Regions from separate parts of the Homo sapiens genome. Here region 2 is linked to region 1. Evidence: fine-mapped expression QTL. A gene starts in region 1. The other region holds a variant in brackets. All regions are shown on one strand. Distances are from middle to middle. Region 1 holds the start of EDAR (ectodysplasin A receptor). Region 2 has its middle 42 kb from the start of EDAR.

Region 1 (4,387 bases):
ACCTCAAACACACTGTGAGCACACCAGAAAGTAAAAATTATATGGAGTAGAACAGATTAGCCCAGAATACCTCCCATTCATTTTCCCAGGTTCCTAATTTAATAATTTCAGTGACTTTAATTTATCACAGACCCTCAGTCTGAACTCGGCATGAGCAGGGTAGACAACCAAACCTGAAAATTCAAGTTAAAATTCTTGTTTGGGAGCTTATATTATCTAGATTAATCATCCACAAGGATCAAGTCAGCTAAGTAACTCTGGTTCAGCTTAATCTCTGTGGAGGCAGAATTAGTCCTTTACAGTCTAGGTCCTTGCCCCAGCCCCATACATTTCTGTCTGCTTTTTTCTTTTCTTTTCTTTTCTGTTTTGAGACAGATTCTCGCTCTGTTGCCCAGGCTGGAGTGCAGTGGCACAATCTCGGCTCACTGCAACTTCCATCTCCTGGGTTCGAACAATTCTCCTGCTTTAGCCTCCACACATGCCACCACCGGCTAATTTTTGTATATTTTTTTTTTTTTTTTTTTTTGAGACGGAGTCTCGCTCTGTCACCCAGGCCGGACTGCGGACTGCAGTGGCGCAATCTCGGCTCACTGCAAGCTCCGCTTCCCGGGTTCACGCCATTCTCCTGCCTCAGCCTCCCGAGTAGCTGGGACTACAGGCGCCCGCCACCACGCCCGGCTAATTTTTTGTATTTTTAGTAGAGACGGGGTTTCACCTTGTTAGCCAGGATGGTCTCGATCTCCTGACCTCATGATCCACCCGCCTCGGCCTCCCAAAGTGCTGGGATTACAGGCGTGAGCCACCGCGCCCGGCCTAATTTTTGTATTTTTAGTAGGGACGGAGTTTCACCATGTTGGCCAGGCTGATCCCAAACTCCTGACCTCAAGTGATCTGCCCGCCTCAGCCTCCAAAGTGCTGGGGTTACAGGTGTGAGCCACGGAGCCCAGACTGTTTCTTTCTTAAGCTCTTACTTTCTCATGTGTGAGTTACCTTGTAGGTTTCCAAGGCAGAGGGGACAAGATGGAAAAGGAGAACACAGAAATCTAGCCTGGAGGAGCTGCTCTGTTCCTGTATTTATCTGTGTAGGTGTGAATGAGGGAGAAAATGACAAGAGAATGACATTATTTTAAGGCTGTTTTCCCCCCCCCAATCATTTACTTTTTGAGAAATAATTGCCCAATACTGAAAGGTATGTCCTTTCAAAATGTTGATGTTTCAAATGGCTTCCTAATTACCTAGTTATACGGGGGGTGTGTATGGTTATCTGAAGTTACATGGGTATACACTGGTGGTGTGAGGTGTCCAGAGAGAGGAAAGGAAGAGCAGTCCTGGTGGCTCAAACCCTGAGGGATGTGCGGGGGATGGGTGAGAATGTGAACAGACATGTTGGAAGCTGAATCCGTGCAGTGGCACCCATGCCTGTAGCCATCTCAGTGGGGGGTCCTTCTACGAACAAGCTTTGATTAATGATATTTTAATGCTAGTTTAGCTTTTTAGCACTCCCACGCCTAAAGGCTCTGATAGAAGCAAGGCCCCCACCCCTGCAAAAAAAAAAATCCATGATTTTTACGCATTCCAACAGATCTCTTAAGGGGCAGACGGCCGGAGAGCCAGGTGTGCCAGGGACCTATGGCAGCAGGGCTGAACGTGCCCGCTCCAGCCTCTCCAGTGCTGGGAGAGACCTCTAGATGGTGCAGGTGAGTTTGCAATGAGGGAAAGCCCCTCGGCAAGGACTGAGTTTCCAAACTTGCAGACAGGGCAGGGAGCGGTCAAGGAAGAGTTCCCGGGAAGCCCTTTAAACGGAAAGGAAGCGGGGCTAGTGTCAGAGAGGTGTGCCAGGTCCCAGGCAGCCCTGCTGGCCCCTAAGGACATAGAGTACCTGCTTCTGAGAGGGCTGCCACGGTGGCCACCTGTGAAGCCTGTCACCCAGAACTGGATGGTACCTGACTTTCTTCATAGACCCATCTTCTGCTGGGACTGAAGCTGACCTCCAACAGAAGCCAGGTAAGCCCTGGTCCTTTCCTCTGGTTTTCTAAACTCTTCAGCTGTGGCCGAGACGGAGGTGTCATGGGCTGGGAGAGAGGCTGGGTGCATTTTTGAAATGCATGTCATTTTTGGGTTGCGTTTGAACAAGCTTTACCGATTGCAGTATGTCTGCGCTACCAGTTCTAAGACCTGAGATTGTTCCTTTGTTTTAGAAAAACATCAGAAACCCTGTTTTGCTGTTGGTTGCACATTTGGTTAGGGAGACAAATTCTGTGTGTGCTTCACAGGCTTTAAGATTTGGGCTACTGAAGCAACGGGTTCCTCCAGGGAGCGTGAAAAGTATGTTTCTCAGGTTTGCCCCTGTGCCCGGCTCACTGGGGAAGGCAGGCGCGGCAGGGACTCTAGCTGGGCTCTGTACCTGCCTCCAACTCTGCGTACCCGCTGTGACCTAAGAGACCTTCCAAGTGGGGTTTCCAGTCGTGTCTGAGACCCCCCATATCCTGGCCTCTGTGTTGGTGGCGGGGGAGCGGGGAGAGGGAGAGAAGGAGGGGAGTGGGTACCTATTTGTGATGATTGAGGTTTTCATTTCCAGCCAAGAGGTTCCTCTCAACACTCTGACAGACCGTGGGGTGGGTTGGGCTCCTAGACAGGAGTCGGCTCTGATTCAGTCGGCTCTGATTCCCAGCCTCCTGCAGCAGCCAAGCTTTGAGATGTCAGCTCAGGGAGAAGCGGGTGGCTGGGCAGGGAGGTCAGCAGGCGAGGTTCCCACTGGGTTTCCCTGCCCATGTTGTGCTGGGTCAGCAACAAGAGGGACAGTTAAAATCAACAAGCAGGGCAGATGCCGGTCAGTGGGCAATCCCACACAGCCAGGGGTACACGCATGTGAGGAGACGTACGGAGAGACAGGAGCACCACCGTCCTCTTCCCCAGTCCCCAGGCCACTGCTCTGTGGCTCTCAAGTGGCATTTTTGAGACACTTTCTAAGCAAGAGTGAAAGTGTAACAAAGAAGTGAAGAGCCATAATAGACTGAAGGAAAAAAGGGATCCAGGCATCTAAAATAGAGAATGTTTCTTGCCTGGCTTAATACTCTGAGATTTGTAAGTCATAGCCACTTAAAACCTTTAAAGATACATTTTGACAGAGGCCACCAAAAAGAGAGTGACTCTGGTCAAGGCTTGGAAATAAGCGTTCGTTCCGATGACAGTCCACGTGTACCCTTCACGGCTGGGAAAGTTTGGCGATCCTGGTGGCGATTGGCCGGGGGTCTCCACTGTACCCCTCCCCATCCCTAAGTGGGCCAGGCTGTGCTGTGGGAGGATTAATTTGTGACAGCACAGTTGGAGGATAATCTTGGAAGGACCAGTCTTTGGGAGGAAAAAGTAAATACACTTTCCCTGAAATGCTTGATTTTCACTCCCTGGCCACTACCTGGTTTCTTGCTTTTGTGAGCTGGACTTTCATTTTGTTGGGCATACACATTTGTGAAGCACAGACATGTCAGGGGCTCATCTTTGTTTCTCAGGCATCATGGTACCCTCTTGCCTAGCCCAGTGCCTGCCATTGGGCGGCAGCCCAACATTGCTCCGGAGTGCAGACAGACCTGGTCTTACCCCATCTCACGGAGCGCAAAACCTACTTGCCTCTGTTAAATGGGGAGCCTCTTCTAGTCAAAGTTCCTCAGGTCTCATAGGCCCACAGATGGAAGCTGGGTTACCTGACGCTCCTTTCTGGGTCCAAGTGAGTGCGTTTTGTGGTTTCCAAAGAATAGAATTTATTCTCAAGGAAATGCCCAGGAACCCAGCTTCAAAGACTCAAGCAAATCTGAAATTCAAATACAGGAGCTGTAAACAGGATGGTGTTTGGCAGACAGCCTTGCTGCTTAAGTGGCTCAGCCCCTCAGCTGGGCTCAGTTTCCCCTCACCCTCCTCCTAGCCTGCCTAGTGACTGCCTGCATGCCTCAATTATCCTGGATGACACCTGCCTGCTCGTTCCTTTGATGCTGTTTGAGGCTCTGCCTAGGTATTCCACCCACCAATAGTATCATTAATTAACTTACATTAAGCCCACTTAGCACATTAGATCAATTAGGGGACAAAAGCCCCAGCCAGCCTTTCCTGTGAGTATGCCGCCTCCATCTCAATGCCTACGATTCTGTCCTTACTGAATTCGTATATTGCAGGAAGGAATTTTTTTTAAGTCCCAAAGATTACTATTTTCCTAAAAAATAAAGCAAGGAAACATAAGCTGATGTCTAATCATTTAACCTCTGCTGTACATTTCTATGGCACTTTACAAAGCGTTGTCATGAATGTCTTCTCTATTTTCCCAATAAGGAAATTGAGGCTCAGAGAGGTTCACTGTCTTGCCCGAAGTCCCACAGCTCATAATGATTATGGGAAC
Region 2 (4,387 bases), 43 kb before region 1:
GGGCTCCCATCTTCTCAGCTACAGCACCTGATTAAAGCCTTCTTCCTTGGCAATACTTGTCATCTCTGTGATTGGCTTTCTGTGCAGGGAGCGGCAGGACCTAGACAGAACCTGGGTGTTTCGGCAACACCACCTGCCTCTGCTTCCGAGGGCACACTCAAAAAGGAGGGGACTGGGCCCGTGCATTCACCTCAGTGTCTCTGTTTCACAAAAGGAGTCGTGGAAATCAGAATAATCAAAATCTCAGCTCACAGAAATGAGCGAGGCTGAATGCAAAATTAAAGTGGACAGGGCCCATCAACAGCCTGAAAGGGGCTTTGTTATTCCTTCCTAGGGAAGTCATCACCTCTCAGAGAAGTGTCTGGCTGAGTAATGACCAAACATGAAAGGTCTCTGTCCACTCAAGGCATGGATCATACTAAGGCCTGGTGATCAGTTTAAAGGAAATGTATTTCCCATGGCTGATGTCCACAACGTTCAGCTTCCAAGGGTTCAGGAAGGACTTATATTTCACCCTGCCATGACATGGGTCAAATATGAGGCCTCTTTGAAAATCCAGGGAAAATTAGCTCCTGGTGACATAGGATGCACTTCTTAGCTCCTAGTTGCCCATCTGGAGTTCTCTGTTAGGCCCACAGAATCAGCAAACTCTGTGTGGAATTAGGCGATTGCTCCTCAGTAGTGGCAGTGCAACCGGAGGGAAATTATTGTTCCATTCTGACTTGTGAGTTCCTATAAATCTTAGCTTTAAATCAAATGCTCTGTGAGTTGCTACAGGAGTTTCATTTAACCCACCAGCCTGTGCAAGAGGTGAGAGGTGGCCCGACTGTGAAATCCCAGAAGACACATCTAGTTGGCCAAGGCCTCTGCTCTCAGCTGGAGGAAAGACTCCCCCACCCCACCCCATGGGGAGGGGAGAAAGCGCATGGATGGAGTGGGATGAAGAATGGAGAGTGAGGAGAAAGCCCTTCCATGGTGTAAAAGTCAGGGCATCCGCTGAAGCCTCTCACACATTCGACCGATGTCACCCCAAGGAGCAGTTTCACCAGACAGGGTGCTGAGTCTAGCACAGCATCTGTTTGCAGACGGTGCTTGAAAGGACTGAGGTTGGGTCCTGGAGTTCTAAAGTTCTAACCCTTTTCTTCTGTCTTATTTCACCTTCCTGCAAAACAAAGAGGGGGTGGGGAGGGACAAAAAAAATCGCTATGCAGAAGTTCACTCCGGAAAATGCCCTGAAATAAAATCAACAAGATTGATGTGCAGGCAGACAGGTAATAACTTTAGAAGTGAAAGAAATCTCCAAAGATCTATGACATTTTTAACAAAACAGGGGGAAGGTGGGCAGCGCTCAAAACTGCAGAGCGGTAATTACACCCACAGGAAGTCTCTAATGAACTTGAAAACAAAGCTCCGAAGAAAGGGAAAGAAGATAACTGCAGAGTTCTGTTTACGTAACCGTAGGGGGTTTGAACACCAAGAACTTACAGCTCCTGAAACGCGGTGAGGAAATGGGAGGGAGGGCAGCGAGCGTTCAGAGTTTTGGCAAAAGGTCAAAGAGAGTGAACGGATGTGGGGGGAGGGGAAGAAGGTGGCGGGGGGTGGGTGGTAGCGCTCACGGGACAAGAAATTGAGCAAACAGAAAAGCTTAGTTGCTGAAGAAAATACTTAGAGGAAGGAGGGTTCTCTTCGCTGGGGGCAAAGTGGGGCAGCTTTATCCCGCCTGTGGCCCGGAGGTAGGCGTTGGCGCAGGTCTCGCCGGCGCCCGCAGCGCGTCCAGGTTGCCACCGGCAGAGCCCGGCCCACGTGGCCGACGCTGAAGCGGCGCTCTCCGTTCCTCCAGCGGGCGCTTCCCGGCCGAGCTGCAGGGGGTGCACACAGCAGAACTTCACTGCGCCCTCCTCGCCGCACGTGGGGCCAGGCCGTGCGCTAGAGACCCGCGGACTCGGTGCAGCCCGGCGAGGCGGGCAGAGCCGACTGCTGGGTCTGAGCGCGCATCCCCTGCTGCTACTGATTGAAGCCCAGTCCCCGGTGCAACAGTAGTAAGAGGGGGCCTCCAGGGAAGTGATTCCGTCGTAAGGGGAACGGGGCTGATAACCTTATAAGAAGGCTGGAGGAAGCTGTTTCCTCCCTTC[C/T]GCTCCTTCTGCAGAGCGTTCCCGTCTCTACCCCACCCCTGCCACATCAGAGCCCCCATCTGTGCTGAGTCAGCCAGCACCCATCAAGAAGCCCCCATCTGTGAGGAACAGGCCCCCCTCACTGCTGACACCTTGATGGTGGACTTCCAGCCTCCAGCACGGTGAAAAGGAAATGGCTATTTATAAATTACTCTCTAAGGTGTTTTGTTGTAGCAGCAGGAATGGACTTAGGGACCCGGAGTTCTTACCATTGCCCAATCACAATACCCTTAGACTCCAGCATCTCCACACATGGCGTCCCCTCGTGGAGCGCTCCGTGTCTTACCATGAGTCAGTGAGACAAAAGGTGCAGATGACACTGATGGTGGTATACATGCACACTGTGTTAGTCTGTGTACTAGTTATGAGTATATATACCAATTATTAAACCATTTTACCAAGAAAATAAAGACTTGGGAGATGTTAAAAAACTGCCAAAGTCGGGTGTGGTGCACCTGTGGTCCCAGCTACTCTGGAGGCCGAGGCAGAAGGACTGCTTGAGCCCAGGAGTTCAAGACCAGCCTGGGCAACATAGTGAGACCTAGAAAACAAACAAACAACAACAACAACAACAAAAACTGTCAAGAGACAGAACCTGGATAAGAAGTGGGTTATATAAACCAAAGTGGTCCAAAAATTCAGATGCCTGAGGGGCCCCAAGCTGGTCCTAGGTACTCAGGAAAGTACAATTCTAGAAGGAGCCTTCTGCTTAACAGCCTGCTGGTCATCCTCAAAGAGGCCACCACTCCCCACTCCTTCTCAGGGAGCCTCATCCCATCAGACAGTGAGGCCCATTCTTTCATTCATTCAGGTCATATTTACTGTCTATCCAGAATGCACCAGGCACTGTGCTAGGTGCTACTATACACATTATCACATTTGGCAGGGTATGGCACACCTCTTCATTTAAAAATAACCTTTCCAATGACATTAACAATGGGCTTTACTTACGTGAAATTCACTTAAAATAGAATTCTAAGGAATTTTACGTAGCATACCATAATTTGGCTAGAGGAGAAGGCTGGGTCTTCAGTGGGAAAATGTTGAAGGTAAAGCACTTGAGCGCATGGCCTGCTGGGGAGAGTGCTGAGCCAGCTGGCTGTGCAGGGGAGGATTGAGGAAAAGGCTGAAAATGAAGGCTGAGGATCAGTTTCATGAGCTCTCGAATCCAGGTTGATTTGAAACTGTTCTTTGCATAGGCAGAACATTCTGAGGTAGCAAACAAAAGTTAGAGTCAAAGAATTCTTTCTAAAGAATGATGTCAAGGAGGCAGTAAATCTAAGACTCACCCACACACTCGAACTGGCACTCAGTAAATGCTTACTGAATGAATGAATCAATCAATCCATCAATACAGAGATAGCAACCAGGATCCTTGTCAAGTCAAGAGGGTTATTAGTATAGTATTTCTTTAAAATAAACAGCCTTATCTGTGAGCAAAATAAGAGGCTGCCCCTGAAGGCTAAGGATGTCTGCATCCATTTGAGAGAAACAGCCTTTCATTGTGCAATGATTAGGCTTAAGTTGCTGGCAAGGCTGGAGACAAGGATAGAGATGAAAGGCTGGATGATGGCTGCCGGGGGGCCCTGTCCTGCAGCTGTTCCAGCCAGGAAAGGAGAGGGGAACAGAGGAGACAGCACAGGCAGCAGGCAGGCATCCCAGGCCGAGGAAGGAGGGAGGGCTCCCCAGGGTCACCCTGCTCTACTTTTGGAGCCTGATGCTGTAAAGTTTGCCCGGCAGGGACACACATGCTGCAGAATCTCCTCTTTCCCCTCATTGAGAGGACCAGGTTTTCCCTTGGAAACGGACAGACACACACTGAGCTGCTGCTTCCCAGGAGGGCTGAGGCACCCTTCAATAACTTCAGGCATCAGTGTCAGCCACATCATGGTTTCCCACCTCCAGATTCCCATGCCTTCCTTACCCTAATGAAGTTTCTCCCATTTACACATGGTCCCTCATCATCCCTCTCCTGGATGCTTTACTAGCTTTATGGAAGGAACTTGGAGGAGTGGCCAAGGCAGAACCCAGCAGCTGCGGCCATGGGGGTGAATGGGGGCTGGGATGGGGAGGGACTCCATAGACTCAGTGTTGACATGAAGGAGGAAAGGGCCCAGGTGTCCTATTAACAGTAATAACAATAATCTTGCCTTAAACCTTATTTATTTATTTATTTATTTTATTTATTTTTGTAGTTTAGAATGAGGTGAGGGCTA

Evidence for each region. PIP is the estimated chance that this variant, and not a neighbour inherited with it, causes the effect.
Region 2: its variant is fine-mapped to the expression of EDAR in whole blood (TOPMed, PIP 0.97).

Annotation. Positions count from the first base shown.
Region 1 is chr2:108,986,577-108,990,963 of GRCh38, reverse strand. It overlaps EDAR (ectodysplasin A receptor), which reads left to right and starts at 1,744. Exons shown (of 12, transcript NM_022336.4): 1 at 1,744-2,004. It also overlaps a transcript of RANBP2 not described here. RefSeq lists an enhancer at 2,770-3,271.
Region 2 is chr2:109,029,105-109,033,491 of GRCh38, reverse strand. It overlaps a transcript of RANBP2 not described here. Among named protein-coding and RNA genes, the nearest start is that of EDAR, 42 kb to the right of the region's middle. The variant C/T (reference allele first, on the strand shown) is at 2,133.